Linked DNA regions of Homo sapiens: all the other regions are linked to region 3. The links come from fine-mapping of genetic effects on gene expression. A gene starts in region 3. Each other region holds a variant in brackets. All regions are shown on one strand. Distances are from middle to middle. Region 1 has its middle 66 kb from the start of MIR3130-1. Region 2 overlaps FASTKD2 (FAST kinase domains 2). Region 3 holds the start of FASTKD2 (FAST kinase domains 2).

Region 1 (6,042 bases), 83 kb after region 3:
AGTGTGAGCAGGACTCTACTTAATGAATGTGCTAATTGTTTTCCTTGCTGCAAATGTTAGTGTTGCTTTTAACCACAATATACAGAAGATTAGGAGCCAATTCATTATATGTTATTTAATGAGTTATATTTATACTATATAATGGCATTGTTAAATTCACACAGTACCCTGCTTAATATTCAAAGCACTTTACTAGAGCACACTATTTTAAGCTCAAAGCTGTCCTTTGTCATAGGGAGGCAGGAAGAGTATGCCTATTTTATTTAGCATGGTGGTTATGAACTCAGCCTCTGAATTCATGCTGCCTGGATTTAAGTCCTGGCTCCTACTTACCAACTGTGTGACCTAAGAAATGTTACTGACCTTTCTGTGCCTCAGTTGTCTCACTCATAAAGCAGGGTGAGTAGTAGTATCTACATCATGGGGTGTTATAGAATTTGGTGAGTTAATGCTTGTAAAGGGTTTGATGCAGTGCTGGGCATGCTGCTAGTCTCCAAAGTATGTTACATGATTCTCAGTTACACTCCTTCCCTCATGATCCATTCTCCACGCAGCACTCAAAGTGAACTTTCAAAACTGAGAATCCCTTCATGCCACCTGGCTGCTTAAAATACTCTGGGGACTGCCCATGGCAAGGGATTGAAATCCAAACCATTCACCATGGCCAGGCCTGTTCTCTAGACTGTGCCTAGCTCTGTGCACTCATCTTTCTCTCCTCACCCGTGCCTGGCTCCTGTGCTCTAAGCATGCTGCTCTCCTTTTCGTTTTTCAAACACACCAAACTCTTTTCTGCTTCAAGGACATTGCCTGAACCCCCTTCCCCCAGATCCTCTGGCACCTCTGATTCATGTGCCAACTCAAGGCAGATTCAGGAATGAAGGCTGCCTTCCCTGACTACCCAATCCCAGTTGCACCTGGCTGCTGCCACAGCCCTGTTGAATGAATAGATGAATGAAATTTTGTGAACCTTCAGGCTCATGGCACACTATCATCACTAGTCCTTGCTTTATTCTATTTTCTTTATAGCTCTTATCCCTTAAACAATGCATAAATGTACACACAGGTTATTTATTTATCTGAATAAATCTGCAGTGATGCATAAGTCCCTTAGAACTCAGAATCTCCTTGGCTGATACTGTCATTCTTTCCATATGCTCTCTTGGCTGGTGGTTCTCCAAGTTCAGTGTGTGCTGGGCCTATCTCCAGAGTTTCTGATTTGGTAGGCCAGGGCAGATCTCTTTGGGAAAGTGACATTCAAGGATGAGGCTTAAAGGATGAGAAGAAGTCCAATCACATGGGAGCTGGAGGATGAGAGTTCTAGGCGGTAGGAACAGCAAGTGCCAATAAGCTGAGCTGAGAAAAGAGCTATAGTGTTTGAGTAACAGAAGGAAGGTGAGTATGGCTAAAGCTTGGAGGGAGAGTGGGAAAGAATTCCAGGCTGACCTTGAACAGGAGGCAGGGGTCTGATCAGGCAGTGCCTATTGGCCCTGTGGGGGAGGGTAGTTTGTGTTCAGAGTACAGTGAGAAAGCTTTGCACAGGGGAGAAACATGATCCAATTCACATTGTTTTAAAGGTTCACTCGGGATGCTGTGTGGACAAAGCCTTGTAAAGGGGCAAAAGTTCAGTAATGAGATTCATTCTACTCCTTCCTTTGAAGCAGTCCTCTGGTCTACACTGACTTCCCACAGAGCCCACTGTGTGTTTTGGGCTCTAGAGCTGCTAGAGAACTCCTTTAAAGTAGGTGGTTGCCATTGTAGCAAACAAATGAATATAGTGTCTGCCTCAATTCCCAACTTGGAGGAAAAGCTTCAAGCTCACAGTCTCTGTCTAGGGAGCAGCCCATGTCTTTTTCTGTGTAGGGGAACTCTGTATTCTGCCTCACCTATCCTGTTGCTCTGGCCCAGGTGTTGGACCAGGAGAGACACCAGGGTGGCCAGAATGCAGGCTGGCCTGCAGTTAGCGAGGTGGCCTGGCACAGGGCTCTGCCTAGCAAGGTTAATGATAGTGAACAAACCACTCCCATCAGACACTGTCTTTTGCAGCAGCAGCAGTAGCAGATGGTAGCAGGACTCGAGGCTTATGTGCAGAGAAACATCATGAGGCTGCAGAAGCCATGAGAGCGAGGTTATGAATTAGAGTCCGAAGTGAGCAGAACTTATTGGCAAACCTAAAAGGCAGTGGAAAAATACCTAGAGCAAAATGGGTTGCTTGGTGATGGCGGAAGAGGCAGAGGCCAAGGCAAAGCAACACTAGGTCCCCAACCTGGTAGAGTCCATTAACTTCTGCTGCTGGGAAGTAGAATGAATGGAAGCAAAGAGGGCCGGGTTTCCAGAGGGGTGCCAAGTCCTCAAGGTAATCCGTTTCAAGCCTGCCTCTTGTGGGCTTCTCTGCCTTGATGACCTCCCTTCTATACACGTCCTGAAATACCTTCCTACCCACACTCATTACACAGAGTGCCCCAAACCCCTTGCCAAAATGAACCTACACCCACACCCCACCTAGGAATGGAAATTCCTCCTTGCTTACTGGAATTCCTTTACAGCCCTTGGATGTACAACTTGTTGTAATTTAACACTGTTCTATCATTGTTTAGGCCAGAATAATGTCTTCATTTTTAGTTGAAACTTTAGTATAAATTTGCCTTCACAGAAAGAAATGAACACCTGTTGCACCAAAATATGAGAAAGTAGCCATCTGACTGTAAATTACTATAGAATAGCAAAATCTCCCCTAAAATATAATTTTTAATTCATTGAGCTTATGATTTATACATTTTTTGGTATGTAAAATTCTAA[A/G]AATGAAATATAAAATATGGTAACATTTTCTCAGAGGTGCAAAAGAGGTGCACCACTTACCTGTTTAAAACCACTTATTAGGCTGGGTACAGTGGCTCATGCCTGTAATCCCAACACTTTAGGAGACCAAGGCGGGAGGATCATATGAAACTACGAGTTTGAGACCAGCCTGAGCAACAAAGCGAGACCCTATCTCTACAAACAAATTTAAAAAACTCATTTATTAGTAATTCATAACCTTTAGGGAATAATCTCAGATCCTTAGAAGGAAATTGGAGGCCCATCTCTTCAGCCTCCTCTACCAACCCATTTTTCTGCTTTGTTTTCCAAAATGCAGAGGTCCTGCTCCATCTGTATGGAACCACCTGTAATGTACTGACCAGGTGTGCTCTCTCATGCCTTGTACTGTTATAGCATGTCTGGTCTGGAAGCCTCTCTGCAACTTCAGTCCCCACTAGTTTGAGTGACTCCCCTCCTTGATCACACTTGGAGCTGACTTCTTCCATTACATTGTGATGTGTTCCACTGGGCGTTTCTGTTTACTTGTACATTCAGGGCTAGGATCTCAGCCTCCAGAAGACAGGGACTGTGCCTTTATCTTTCTCCAGGGACTAGCTCTGTGCCAGGGCATGTATAGCGTGTGGCCCAAAATAAAGGTTTATGGAATGAAGGAATGAAGCTGCAAAGTCTCATGCCATGGTCTCAGAGGTATGGCTTGGGGTTGCCCCAGGAAGACAGATTTGGTACTCTCAATATCTTTATCACAGAATATGTATACAGTCCTTCTTCACACATGATTCCTAAATAATGTCATGCATGGGTGGCATGCTTCATGAAGTTTCAGGGTTTTAAATACATCTCCCTTCCCCCAGGTCCCACCTAGAAAGGTCAAGTGTGTTGTATAAACCCTTCCTCTGTATGTGGCCTAGATGAGGAGATCAAACACCTCACCTGTCCCAGGAGCAGAATGTTTTCTGGGTCTCACTGGAGTCTGGCTTTGATTACTTTTTAATCATTGGCTTCAGTCTGTGGGAACTAAACCTACATGCCACCTCCTCAGAGGCATTTTGTCTCTCTGGACAACTTGTTCATTCCTTTATAGCAGCGGTCCTCAACCTTTTTGGCACCAGGGACCAGTTTCATGGAAGACAATTTTTCCATGGATGAGGGAGTGGGGGGGTTGGTTTTGGGATGAAACTGTTCCACCTTAGATCATCAGGCATTAGATTCTCATATGGAGCGTGCAGCCTAGCTCCCTCACATGTGCAGTTCACAGTAGGGTTTGTGCTCCTATGAGAATCTAATGCTGCTGCTGACCTGGCAGGAGGTGGAGCTCAGGTGGTAATGCTTGCCCCTGCTGCTCACCTCCTGCTATGTGGCCCAGTTTCCAACAGGCCACAGACTGGTACCAGTCCACAGCCTAGGGGTTGGGGACCCCTGCTTTGTAGCACTCAGTACAATTTTACTGATATATTTATTTCTTTACCCTCTCTCTCAGAGTTGGGCATGAGCTCTGCAAGGGTGGGGATGGTGCCTGTTCTATTCATTGCTCACCACACAGTGTGGCTTCAAAGGTACCTGATGAGCATCTGCTGGGTTATGTTTGGGTTGAAATACCCTCCAAGTGTCATACTACTAACTGGCATGCCCAACTTTGAAAAATATCACATAATTTCTCTCTCTCAAAAAAAAAAAAAAAAAAAAAAAAACCCTGAAGGGTGTGAATTGCTATTACTGTTTTACCTGTAAGGTAATAGCCCAAAGAGAGGTTGACTTGATGAAAATCACAGTCAATGAGAGAAATAAAGACTTGGAACCAGATTTTCTGATAGAAAGCCAGTTTTTTGACTTCTACAATTATCTTTAGAGAAAATTTCAGGAGTGCTAAACTATGCAATGCTATTCCAAAGGTCACCTGGTGGAAATTCTATTGTCCCTCTGCCAGGTGCATACTAGGGAAGAGAAAGAAAATCAACAGGATGATAATGAAATGATGGTAGAAATGATCCAGCCTATTGAACATGCTGCTTGGCTTTCCCTTACAGTTGTTATAGTAACTTATTATAAAACAATAAGACACAAATCTTTAATTCACACCAAAAAATAAACTCCCTGTAATCTCATATGTGTGCCATCACATCTTTAGGAAGCTTTTTGTTAGTTGAGTTGATAAGCATCGACATTGAAGTCTTATCAGTCCAACAAGAGTGAAGAGAATTCAAATGTGAAGTTCAATCCGGTCAAGAATTTGTTATTGGGCAGGAACCAATAAAAATGAGGCTCTGAGTTCATTATTCTAGTTTTTAGAATGCTCTGTCAGAATAAATAGTAGAAAATATTTTATTTTCAAAACATAATGTTTTATACATATTAGTGTAAAGCACTATGACTCAGATATTCTAGTTACCATATCTAAACATTATGGCAAAAATTGCTATAAGAACACATGGAGATAGTACAAGCTTCTATGAATTATGATGAGCAAATGGCATTGATTCATGTCTCTGTGAATTAAAAGCTTAGGAAATGTCTATAGACCTTCCCCTTTGATGTATTGTCTGCTAATCTTTATAAACAATTTCCTGGATATTCTCATGATAAATTTAGATGTTTTAATACAATGTTTCTTAAATGATTTTGATTACAATTCACAGTGAAAACTACATTGGAACCCAAGGTACACATACATATGTATATATAACTGGAAATGTGTCTTACAACAATACCTTTGCTGTGTACCATGTATTCTGGTATTTTTTATTTTATTCTTTCCTATTTCATTAGTTAAAACAAATTCTGGTCATTATCCAGTAAGCTGACTTCATGTCCCTTTCACGGATTGTGCCCATAAGCTTAAAAACTCTCTTAGAGGGTGTTCTCGGCATATATTGCTTTGCAACAAACAACTGCTACTTTGTGGCTTAAAACAAAAACAGTTTTTATTACATTTCAACATTTTATTGGTCAGGAATTTGGGCAGTGTTTGGCTGGGTGATTCTTATGTTCCATATGGCATTAATGGGTTCACTTGGCAGCATGTGGCTGAAGAATGACTGGTTTTAAGGGCCCCAGATGGCTTCACTCATATGTTGTTGGAGATGGCTAGAAAACTTGGCTCAAGTGGGACTGCCAATAGAAGGGCCTGCATGTGCCCACTCTGGCTTAGAGAACTCTAAGTAGTTGAATTACATGATGGCCCAAGAATCCACCAAACAAGATGGAAGCTCTATGACCTTTTATGACCTA
Region 2 (6,042 bases), 25 kb after region 3:
ACTGGCCTGATTCTTGCCTCATAAAATTCTTGTGACCAATAAATGAAATTCTACACATTTTTATGTGTCTAAAATCCCAAGACTAGTATCTGACACATGGTTAGCTCTCAATATATTTTAGCTACTGCTATTATCATTATTGGTAGTACTATTAAACATTTTGAAACAGAAAATCACTTGGGGCTGGTCACGGTGGCACACGCCTGTAATCCTAGCATGTGGAGAGGCCGAGGCAGGTGGATCACTGGAGCTCAGGAGTTCAAGACCAGCCTGACCAAATGGTAAAATCCTGTCTCTACCAAAAAAATACAAAACTTAGATGGGCGTGATGGCATGCCCCTGTAGTCCCAGCTACTCAACAGGGTGGGGTAAAAGGATTGCTTGAACCTGGGAAGTTGCTGCAGTGAGCTGAGATCACACTACTGCACTCCAGCCTGGATGACAGAGCGAGACCACATCTCAAAAAAAAAAAAAAAAAGGAAAAGAAAAGAAAAAGAAAGTCACTTGGAGGAATGTTTGAAAAATTAATATCAATTCTTTCCTTTCAGATTTTGAAATCAGAATGGACACTAACAGGAATCAAGTGCTACCACTTTCTGATGTGGATACAACTTCTGCTACAGATATTCAAAGGTTGCTTACATATATTTCATTTGCTGGGCTTTCTGAATTAAAATCCTAATTCTAAAAGACTTCATATTAAATAGCAGTAGTAAATCTAAGACTTGATGTTTGTATGGAGCCTGCAGCACACCAAGAGACTTGTCATCCATCAATGTACTCCTTAGAAAGTGTAAATGTGGACGTTATGGTTGAATACAATGGACTACAGTATTGGTCATTTAATGAGACAGACATTTTTTTAAAATTAGGTTTTGAAGCTATAGTTCAATAAAACAATATTAATATAATTGAAACTATCAATGCAGTGTAGACTTTGGACAAGATAATATAATAGTGATCATAAAGAATAAAGACTCGAGGCTTCTACAAAAATCAAATACCCAATAAATATTTTGCTCTACCACCAAGACTTTTCCAGAGGTAGAGAAACCGTAGTTTTTTAATTAAACTGTATTTGTATGGGTTAGAGCACATTGAAGCTAATCCTAAGTTGTTTCTTTGGCTCACACATTACAAATAGAGTGTCTCTGGGGAGAAATATGATGCTATACCATGAGAGAACATCCTGCCTCTTCAGTAGATGCATAAGATCATGCCATCATTGCACACACCCGTGGGTCAGTTACCCTTTATGTAAAAGCTCTGCTACATGGATCCTGACCCCAAGGAACTTGTATCTTCTGTTAACTCCACTGGACACACACACACACATAAATATGATAGAAACATACAAAAAAATCTGTAGGGATCCAAGCTCTTATCTGCCCATCCCTCTTCATTCACACACAGTTCTGTGACTTTCACCTCTTTCTGAATGCATCTAGCTTATTTCTTGGCCATCTTTTCAACCGCTGTCTTTCCTATTAGTGCTACCCATCTCCCCTCAGAAGAGGCTTTCTCTCTGACCTCATTCCAAGATCAGTTTTCTTTTTCGGGTACTCCGCTATTCTGGCATAATAAAATAACAGTTGTTCTCAGCATAAAGTCATGAGAAGTGAAGAATGTGAGCATTCCTTTAAAAACATAAAATTTGTCTTATAACAGCCAGAGTATAGGTGAAGGCAGTAAGGATATAAATGTCTTTTTTTTTTCTTTTTTTCTCCCAGTAAACTTAGTATTTCCAAAGTGCCAGGAACAATGAAAAAACAAATTACACCTTCCACATTTTCGTTATATTTACAGATTTTATTTTAACAGTCTTGCCTTTCTCTTGGTGTTTTCTTTCTTGTATTTAAACTCCTATTTCTGTTTTTTAAATGCTGCTTTCTCTGGGAGATGATATGTGTAAGAAGAGCATTTACTATTTGGTATTATTTACACCGTTACTACTACTGGTAGAATAAATAATTATACTCAGATCAGAAATCAGCACTACACAGAAAACCCTTAAAATTGGTGCTTTCATGTCTGAAAATTTTCCTCTTCAAAAATGTAGCCATCCTTAAAGGGAACTGAGAGGTAACTGTGTATAATGTTGTATATTTTTGATTTATAAAGTAGCCTTGTATAGTGGAATATCTGCAGAGGCCAAGTAAAAGAAGTGAAGGACTAAGACAGGAATATCAAGGATTGTGGTCGGTGGAGAGCTCAACTTGGAAATCTCCAGAGAACAAGAATGCAGCAAGACTAAATAGTAATATCAATAACTGTTCTTGTTTTGTTTATTTTTGTTTTCAGAGTAGCTGTGCTATGTGTTTCCAGATCTGCTTATTGTTTGGGTTCAAGCCACCCCAGAGGATTCCTTGCTATGAAAATGCGGCATTTGAATGCAATGGGTTTTCATGTGATCTTGGTGAGAAAAAAATGCAAATGAAATATTCTTTAATTACTGATGTACATTCTAACAGCTGCCAGGAATCTTGTGGTTGAGACTGGTTACTAGGACTAGAGGAATTGTCAGCATTATTGGAATGAGTGCTTTAGTTACTGTTTTCTTTGAAAAAGAACATTGCTAGTACACGATTTGGGTTCTGCTCAGCTGATTACTGTCATTACTAGAGCTTTTACAAATGTTGTTCTGGTCAGCTTTAATCCTTTTTTGCTAAGAAGAAGAATGCAAATAATATATTTTCATATTTAAGATACACAAAACCATATTTAATTTCCAGGTTATCTTGAACAAGGGAAGGAAAGATGTTAAAGCTTTGTTTTCATGGCCTGTGTGAAGCTGTTACAGGATGTTTGTTGCCAGAAAAGGCTGGATGGTTTTAAGAAGATGGGTCTTTCTCTTCCCTCTTATGCTTCAATTTTATTTTGTACCCCACAGCTTCTCTTGAACAGCCTCTTCTGATGTTTCTAGGTAGTAGGAACCTTACAAATACATTTATATATATGTTGCTGTTGGAATCTATCTAAATGCCACTCATTTGGTCCTGCGCATAATGTAAGATGTAAACATTCCAAGTCTTCTATTATTATACTTTAGTATTGGAAATGGATTACGTGTGGACTATTGAGATTAAGATGACTCCTTTCTCTTAGTGGGCTACTATTTAAGACTTTGTTTTTTATATTGCTGATTATATATATTCTAAGGAAGATTTTCTCAAGAAAGCAGTTTTTGCACCATTTAGAGGACCTTTAAAATTTGTATAATTTTCACAGTTAAAGCTTTCTTAAACCCTAGCATGTAGTCTTATTATGCCTTTAAAATATGAGTAGTTATAAGGTCACATTTGCTTTCAAAAAGCTATTGTCCTCATGTTACTTTACTATGTTTGGATCTCTAAACTAGCTCTTTTGTTAGTATCGTCTCACAAACTGATTATTTTCCTCTTTCTTTGGTAAGGTCA[A/G]TAACTGGGAGATGGACAAACTAGAGATGGAAGATGCAGTCACATTTTTGAAGACTAAAATCTATTCAGTAGAAGCTCTTCCTGTTGCTGCTGTAAATGTGCAAAGCACACAATAAAGTGAAAATCAACCTTTTCATATTAGGAGACATGCATTTGTAAAAATTAATAAAGATGACAAGTCAGTTGTCAATGGAATTGAGCTATCTGCTAAGACAAAAAATGTTACCTCAGTTCACTATTAAAATTAATTTTAGGAGTGGAAGAAATGTTGTTACTGCCATTTAAAAATATGCTGAGAAAATTCCAGAAGGGTTATTTTTCCAACCACACCTATTCCCTCTAGTGCCCAGATATTTGATTTGTGAGCTGTACGTTTCACCTTTTCATCTTTGATCTACTAAAAACTGGTTTCTTAGTTGTGAGGTGTCACAGGCAGGTTGATGTGGGTAGTAGTCCTTGTCTTTGGAATCTGAATATTTATACTCCTGCTCTAAGCTGTTCTAAGACTTGGGGTTATGCCTTTAAATCATTTTCAAGCATTGGCCAAATAATAATTGGACAAAGTTCTAAAGTTGTCAAGTGTGTAAGAATTAGTGAGGTAGCTGTTGAAAATGAGTGAGGATGGTATTTGTATTTGTAATAAGCACTGCAGGTAGAGATATTTCATGGGTTATAATAAGAGAAACACAGATGAGATGTAGATGGTAAGGAGTCTTACTGTTGTTGGGGTCCTTCCTTTCTCTTTCTTTTTTCCCCCTTACCCCTCCCACAATTTCATGAAGTCTTTTAAATTAAATATATAGCTGAATTGTGTTGTGAATCAGACCTGAGGACTATTTTTTCGATTATGTGTGTTCATTCTTTGTTCAAATATTTGTCCAAATTCAACTATTTTGTTCAATATGCCTGTCTACCTAGTATTTGGCTCGCTGGGGATATAGTGATGAATAGGCATGGTCTCTTGTGGAACTTACAGCATGGGTTCCATGCAAGTTGGTGTTATTCTGCCCCCAAGCACACAGACATGCAATTACTAGACATCTTAGTATGTGCCGGGCACTGCTAAGTATTCATTTGTGTGCTGCCTTTTCATGATCTGAACCCTTTGAGGTGTAGCTGCTATTATGATTCTCTCTGTGTCTTCACTTCCTCATCTCTAAAATCAGGATAGGTATTTGCCCAAGGCTACACAGAGTAGGGGAGGGCTGGAGTTTGAATGTGAGCTAACATAGGCTTATAAGAAAATACAAAAACTGGGCTGGGCACGGTGGCTCGTGCTTGTCATCCCAGCACTTGGGAGGCCGAGGTGGGCTGATCATGAGGTCAGGAGGTCAAGACAATCCTGGCCAACACGGTGAAACCCCATCTCTACTAAAATACAAAAAATTAGCCGGGCATGGTGGTGCATGCCTATAATCCCAGCTACTGGGGAGGCTGAGGCAGGGGAATCGCTTGAACCCGGGAGGTGGAGATTGCAGTGAGCCAAGATGGTCCTGCTGCACTCCAGCCTGACCACAGAGCGAGACTCTGTCTCAAAAAAAAAAAAAAAAAAAAAAAAAAAAAAATACAAAAACTATAGCAATATGACAACAGCTGCCAGGTTGTATCAATTTATCCAGCTTGCATTTAGAAAAGGTTAGAGCTGAAAGGAAATTTAGTGATTATTTAATTGTTACTTCCCTCATTTTATGGACGAGGAAGATAAGGCTCAAAGAATTTTCCTTTCCTGAAGTCTCAGCTATGCCATTGGTTCCACATCATTTCATCCTCACCTGCTCTTCAGCTTGTGTCCCAGGAGATCAGGCTTCTGGTTCCAGATTGGACAACCTCTAGTTTTGTATACTTGGCCAAGTGATTTAACCTTATAAGCTTCAGAACAAGATGCAGATATTCTGTTATTAAAGGAACTAAGGTTTTGTCTTTAAATGTTGAGTGTGCATCAGTTTTGAGTGTCTAATTATGACTCCTCTTCAAAGGATTTGACAAATTTGTGAATATTTATGACCACCTTTTAGGGTAGTAATTTTCAGTTTGTACTAGTTAACCTGGCAGATAAAAAGGCATCCCTCTTTTACTAGCATTCTAGTGTTAGCATTCTTCATTGCTTTGTGTCAATGAAAGAAAAATGGGCAAAGAGCTGATGAACATGAAAAAAGTTCAGTCTACTTGTAAAGACATGCACATTGAAACAGAAGAGATGGTTTTGCCTTTCAAATTAGCAGTTTTTTTTCTTTTAAGAATTACAGTGCTGATGAAGGTATAATGAGGCAAGCACTTGCATAAGCTGTTGGTAGACTGTAAATTAATACCTTTCTGGAATGTACTTTGTGGGGTTTTCTTCTCCCATAATTTAAAAAATAGCTTTATTATAGTATAATTGACATACAGTAAACTGCATATATTTAAAGTGTACCGTTAGGTCAGTTTTGACGTACATACACACACACACACATCTGTGAAACCACAATCAAGATAATGAATATATCTATCACCTCTAAAAGGTTCCTGTCTTTGCTTTTTTCTCTGTCCCCTAAACAACCACTGATCTATGGCACACATAGAAAAAAATTAGGAAATATATTAAATGCTCATTTTGTGTGAGATATCCAAATATTTTTTTCAGAAT
Region 3 (6,042 bases):
CTCCTGTATTTTCCCATCTCCTTCAAAATGTCTCATAGACACTCAGAAGGTCTATGATGTATTTTGTCACCATTCCCCTACTAAATGTGCTTAGTCGCTTATATTTATTATGTCCATCTCCCTAATTATCTAAGAGTAGTAAGAGTATCCAGAGTATTAAACCTACTCATCCGCTTTTTTTTTTTTTTCAGTGACTCCTAATCTCTGCAATTATTCAAACCTCTGCTTGGGAACAATGTTTAACTCCTTTTTCTCCCTTATCTGCCCTCCTCCAGTCAATTAGACATCCAGTTCTATAGATTCTGCCTCCCTAATATCTCTCCAATCCATTCACTTCTCTCCATCTCCATTGTTTGCCACTCTAGGCCAGGTCACAATCAACTCCCTCCTGGACTATAGCACTAGTCTCCTAACTGGTTTCTTGGTATCCAGTCTTTTTGTCCCACACTATAGCCGTAACATTCAGATAAAATTCAGATTTGATTAGGCCCTCCTCCCCTTCTAAAAACCTTTCATGTACTCTGGATAAAGTCTAAACTACTGAATGTGGCTCAAAAGAATCTACATTATCTAACTCTAGCCTCACCTTATGAAATTCTCTTCCTTGTACTATTTGCTTCAGTCCTAATAAACTTATTTCAATTTTATACTTATTTTATATTCTCAATTGTCACCAAACTAGTTCTCCTTGCTCTAACCCCACTCCCAGTTACCCATGCCTAAATTGCTCCCCTCCTTTCTACCTCTTCTCTGTTAGGTAATTCATTATCATCTTTCAGGTATCTGCTTAAAATCTCTCCCTCTGGGAAACCCTTACCTGATTAAGTAAGGTCCCTGCTATCGTTCCTATAGAACCCTGCCCTGTCAGTGTCATACATGCAACATTCTCTGTGTGTTTTCCACTGACTTCCCACCATGTGGTTAGTCAGTGTTCAAAAATATTCTTCTGGGCCAGGTGTGGTGGTGCATGCCTGTAATCTTGGCACTTTGGGAGGTCAAGGTGGGCAAATCACTTGAGCGTAGGAGTTCAAGACCAGCGTGGGCAACATGACAAAACCCCATCTCTACAAAAATACAAAAATTAGCTGGGCATGCTGGTGTATGCCTGTAGTCCCAGCTACTTGGGAGGCTGAGGTGGGAGGATCGCTTGAGCCCAGGAGGTCAAAGCTGCTGTGAGCCACGATTGCACCACTGCAATCCAGCCTGGGTGACAAAGTGAGAGCCTGTCTCAAAAAAAAAAAAAAATCTCCTGTGGATGGTAGATGTCAATTGTGTTCAATGCATCAAAGAGATCAAATAAGTCAAAGACTAAACAGCTTCTATAAAAGTCAGTGGTGACTTTGGTGACAGCAGTTTCTGTCAGGAAGCAGAAGTAGAAGCCTTCTTCCAAGACTGATTGGAAGGCAGAACTGGAGATGGAAGAGCAGTCTACTCTTTTAAGAAACTTTACGAGGAGAGGAGGTAGGTACCATGGATTGTTGTAATAAAAGCCTTCTCAGTTGAGTCCTTGCTGTCAACCAGCACTTTCAATCATTCTCTCCGTTGCTGCCAAGACAGGCTTCCTAAAATGCAAACTCATTAAGACTACTCTCCTGCTTAAAATTTTTCTATAATTCCTCATTGCTTTCAGGATACAGTTCAAACACCTTTGCTTGACCTACATGAAATGCAAGGACCTGGCTCCTGCTCCTGTTGTAGCCCCAGGTCCTGTCACGCCCCACATATCCAGATCTTCTGTTAGGCCAGGAAGCTTCCTGCCTCTCTGCTTTTATTTGGAATAGCCTCCTCAGCTCACACCTTCACAACTCAGCTCCTGTAATACCTTCCCCAGCCAGTTCCTTGTGTCCACCTCTCCCTCATCCCCCAAACCCAGATTAGGAGTCTACGCTCCCAGAGGCCTGTGCAGGTCTCCTTCATCGCGTTAATCACACCGTATCAAAAGTACATGTTCTGTGCCCCATGAGACTGAAAGCTCCTCTAAGGCAGGGATATGTTTCCCTCCATTGCATCCCCAGTGTCCCACAATGCTTGGCGCACCGTCACGGTCCAGTAAAAAACTTTGAATAAATCTATAGCAAAGCATGGAGCGGTCCGTATAGAGGCTGCCAAGCCGAGCGGCCATGGGAGGTGAGCTGTTGTCGGCGTTTTGAGCAATCTGCGGGCGGACGCGGGGATCACTCACCCGCGATGACGAATTTGGCCATGGTCGAGAGAGACTCAGAGGCAGGGACCGCGGCTTCGCGGTTTCCTGGCAACCACGCAGCCAAGGGCAAGGCGCAGGCGCACTACAAAGTCTGGCGCCCAGCAGAGGTTAGGTGTTTAAAGTTAGGACCTGAATGGGTTACGTTGCGATACACGATCAAACATCGCCCTTATAAGCTCTGTGGTATCCCCGAGCCCCACTCCTGTATGCAGGGAAATTAGTCATTCTCCTTGGTAAACTTTCTTCAAGTAAGTCCTTCAGCTACAGCCGCGAACATATGCTTTTTGACCTTTGAGGGAATCCGTAAGATCTCGTGAGAAGCGCAGCTTCTCGGGGAAGCTGTCATGGCTGCTCCTGTACGTAGTCACGGTCTTGTGCTCTAAGGTGAGTGGAGGACGAGCTTGGGCTTAGCGGCAGCCCGTATCACATCCTAGACTTTTTACTTCGAGGAGAAGAGTCTCACGAGTTGTCCTGGAAGTAAGTTTAAAGGAGGTGGGTTAATGCTGGGCGGCCCAGCTGCGGAAGGACAGGCTCTTGAAGTTGGTTCTGGGGTCTGGTGAGGCTGGCTGGTTGTATAAGATCTTCCTCTTAAGCGCAGGCCACGTGCAGACATCGCTTTCGTTTTCTGCTTCTTCCACTGAGCCGTTCTACCTGCCCAGGTCCCTATTCTTGATGGTCTGGGTTCGGCCGTTGCTAAATCGTCATGTTGAAAATGATCTATCAGCCGGGCGCGGTGACTCACGCCTTGGGAGGCCGAGGCGGGTGGATTACCTGAGGTCAGGAGTTCAGGACCAGCCTGGCCAACATGGTGAAACTCCGTCTTTACAAAAAATACAAAAATTAGCCGGGCGTGGTGGCATACGCCTGTAATCCCAGCTACTTGGGAGGCTGAGACAGGAGAATTGCTTGAACCTGGGAGGTGGAGGTTGCAGTGAGCCAAGATCGCGCCACTGCACTCTAGCCTGGGGGACATAGCAAGACTTTGTCTCAAAAAAAAAAAAAAAAAAAAAAAAAACAGAGAAGAGAAAAGAAAATGATCTATCAATGCTAATCCCCTAATTTTCACCGAGGACATTTCCATAACAATGCCAACAAAAGTCTCTCCTACAGAGAAAGCTTTATGGAACGCTTTTGCACCAGAAAAATCTCATTAATACAATGACTACTTCCAAAGTGACCTGGCTTCTTTGAAACTGGACACATTGTGGTAGATTGGAGGGAGCCCACATTGGTAAAAAAAACTTTTACTGTTTTATGTAAATGTTTAATGGCTCCATAGGTTCCCCATTTTCTCTTCTGTTAAATGCATTTCATTTCTTTAAGTAAAAGTTTTGTTTTAATTTTTATTCTTTTCATTACTTCTTCCCCTACAGGAAAACGACAGCACGTGTTCTTTTTCACTAGTAGAAGTGACGTTGGTTTCATGTTGACAACTTTGAAGCCATTTGGAAGTGTTTCAGTGGAGAGCAAAATGAATAACAAAGCGGGCTCCTTTTTCTGGAACCTTAGACAATTCAGTACATTAGTTTCAACAAGCAGAACTATGAGGCTATGTTGTTTGGGACTTTGCAAACCAAAAATAGTTCATTCAAACTGGAACATTTTAAATAACTTTCATAACAGAATGCAATCAACTGATATCATTAGATATCTCTTTCAGGATGCATTCATTTTTAAATCAGATGTTGGCTTTCAAACAAAGGGCATAAGCACTCTAACAGCCCTTAGAATTGAAAGACTACTTTATGCTAAAAGACTGTTTTTTGACTCAAAGCAGTCTCTTGTCCCTGTTGATAAATCTGATGATGAATTGAAGAAAGTAAACCTTAATCATGAAGTCTCCAATGAAGATGTTCTTACCAAGGAAACAAAACCAAACCGTATCAGCAGTAGAAAACTGTCTGAGGAATGTAATTCCCTGAGTGATGTGTTAGATGCATTTTCAAAAGCGCCCACATTTCCTAGTAGCAACTATTTCACAGCAATGTGGACAATTGCCAAAAGACTGTCTGATGACCAGAAGCGCTTTGAAAAACGACTGATGTTTAGCCACCCTGCATTTAATCAGCTCTGTGAACATATGATGAGAGAAGCCAAGATCATGCAGTATAAGTACCTACTGTTCAGTCTTCACGCCATAGTGAAGCTTGGAATCCCTCAGAACACTATTTTGGTGCAGACTTTGCTGAGGGTGACCCAGGTAAAATAAAAAGGAGATTTAAACATGCATTTACTTGATTTAGAATATTTTGAAAGAATGAAGGGATATAGATATGTAGCCTTCTTAAAAGAGACTATCAAATGGAATGGTAGTTTCCTTTATATTTATTTCTGCATATATATTATATGATTTAGAGGCCTTAAGTTAGCTATTTTCTTCCTTTTGCTATGGAAATTTATGAAAGCCTTCCACATTTACCATCCCCAGGGTTGAGTAGTGGTGAAGAAGCTAAAGTGAGGAGAGATGCAAGATATACAAAGAAAGCCTGGGTAGTTGAAGAAGGAGAGAAGGGAAGGGGAAGGAAGAGAATTTAGTCCATGGTAGAATTGGAATTCAGGCCCAGTAGATGATACCTAAACTGATGAGCAGAATGATAGTGAAGGGGATGGTGTTTCAAGTAGAGAGGATTGCATGCCCTACTGTTCCCAGAGGAAAAGTTTGGCAAATTTGAAGAGCTGAAAGTAGTTTGGTGTAGCTGAAGCACAGAATGATGGAGTTGTATGTTTGAGTGGGTGGGAACAAGTTTTGTACATGGCGATCAAAGGAGAGGAGTGAGGGGCAAGAGGCTTAGGGGCAGAACAAGAGGCCAGAAAAATAGGAACCAAATCATAAAGAGCCTCTTACGGCTAGCTAAGGAGTATGCATTTATCCTGTAGGCAATGGGAATCCGTTGAAGAATTTTAAGCAATGGGTTGACGTGCTCAAATTTGTATTTTAGATCACTGAATGAGTGGAAGATGTATTGGAAGAAGGTTAAAATTGGATGGAGGGAGCCATTTTTAGTCTAAAGCAAGAATGTCAGTGTCCTGTTTAATGTCACTGAAATGGTGCCAAATGTAAGGAAGGAAGGATTAGCTTGTTAATCATTTATGTTTTAAGAGTGTACACTTCTGACGTATAAACTCAGTGATAATGAAGTAATTTCTTAGCCAGGTGTGGTGGCTCACACCTGTAATCCCAGCACTTTGGGAGGCCAAGGCAGGAGGATCTCTTGAGCCCAGGAGTTTGCGACCAGCCTGGGCAACAAAGGGAGACTCCATCTCTACAAAAAATACAAAAATTAGCTGGGTGTGATGTACTTGCCTGTGGTCCCAGCTACTTGGGAGGCTGAGGTGGGAATATCACTTGAGCCTGGGAGGTCGAAGCTGCCGTGAGCCATGATCGTGCCACTGCACTCCAGCCTGGGTGACAGAGCCAGACCCTGTCTGAAAATAATAATAATAATTTTTTAAAAGACAGGAATTCCTTGGGGATAATCTGGCATATATCCTGTCTTGCTATAGAATTCAATAATTGGGTTCATAGCTATGGGAAAGTTTTTAACTTTTTACATTACTGTGATTTCCATATGTCCTTAAGGAATAACTAATTTTTATTTAGTGTATGTGTGTGTATTTGTTTAAACCACAGAATATCCCTGTTTATTTGTAGGCTGTGTATTAGTTCCTATGTAGTTATTTAAAAGTGACTAATAAATCACCTTACCTGGTCAGTGATGCTCTTACTAGATTTTGGACAGATATTTGCATCGGGATGACATCTGTGTTGGTGAGGTATGAGTAGTAGATTTTTGTAGTCAAAACATCTGTATGGATGATGGTGTCTCACTGACCTGTTG

What was found. PIP is the estimated chance that this variant, and not a neighbour inherited with it, causes the effect. A credible set is the group of variants that fine-mapping cannot tell apart.
Region 1: its variant is the best candidate, but not a certain one, in a credible set for the expression of FASTKD2 in whole blood (INTERVAL, PIP 0.70).
Region 2: its variant is the best candidate, but not a certain one, in a credible set for the expression of FASTKD2 in whole blood (TOPMed, PIP 0.67).

The regions. Positions count from the first base shown.
Region 1 is chr2:206,845,851-206,851,892 of GRCh38, forward strand. No RefSeq gene overlaps it. Among named protein-coding and RNA genes, the nearest start is that of MIR3130-1, 66 kb to the left of the region's middle. The variant A/G (reference allele first, on the strand shown) is at 2,797.
Region 2 is chr2:206,788,271-206,794,312 of GRCh38, forward strand. FASTKD2 (FAST kinase domains 2) reads left to right here. Exons shown (of 12, transcript NM_001136193.2): 10 at 549-633; 11 at 2,302-2,416; 12 at 3,413-6,042. The coding sequence ends at 3,532. Among named protein-coding and RNA genes, the nearest start is that of MIR3130-1, 8.0 kb to the left of the region's middle. The variant A/G (reference allele first, on the strand shown) is at 3,417.
Region 3 is chr2:206,763,068-206,769,109 of GRCh38, forward strand. It overlaps FASTKD2 (FAST kinase domains 2), which reads left to right and starts at 2,539. Exons shown (of 12, transcript NM_001136193.2): 1 at 2,539-2,680; 2 at 3,577-4,403. The coding sequence starts at 3,627. MDH1B (malate dehydrogenase 1B) reads right to left here and starts at 2,261. Exons shown (of 12, transcript NM_001039845.3): 1 at 2,183-2,261. The coding sequence starts at 2,204. RefSeq lists enhancers at 2,040-2,179, 2,430-2,809.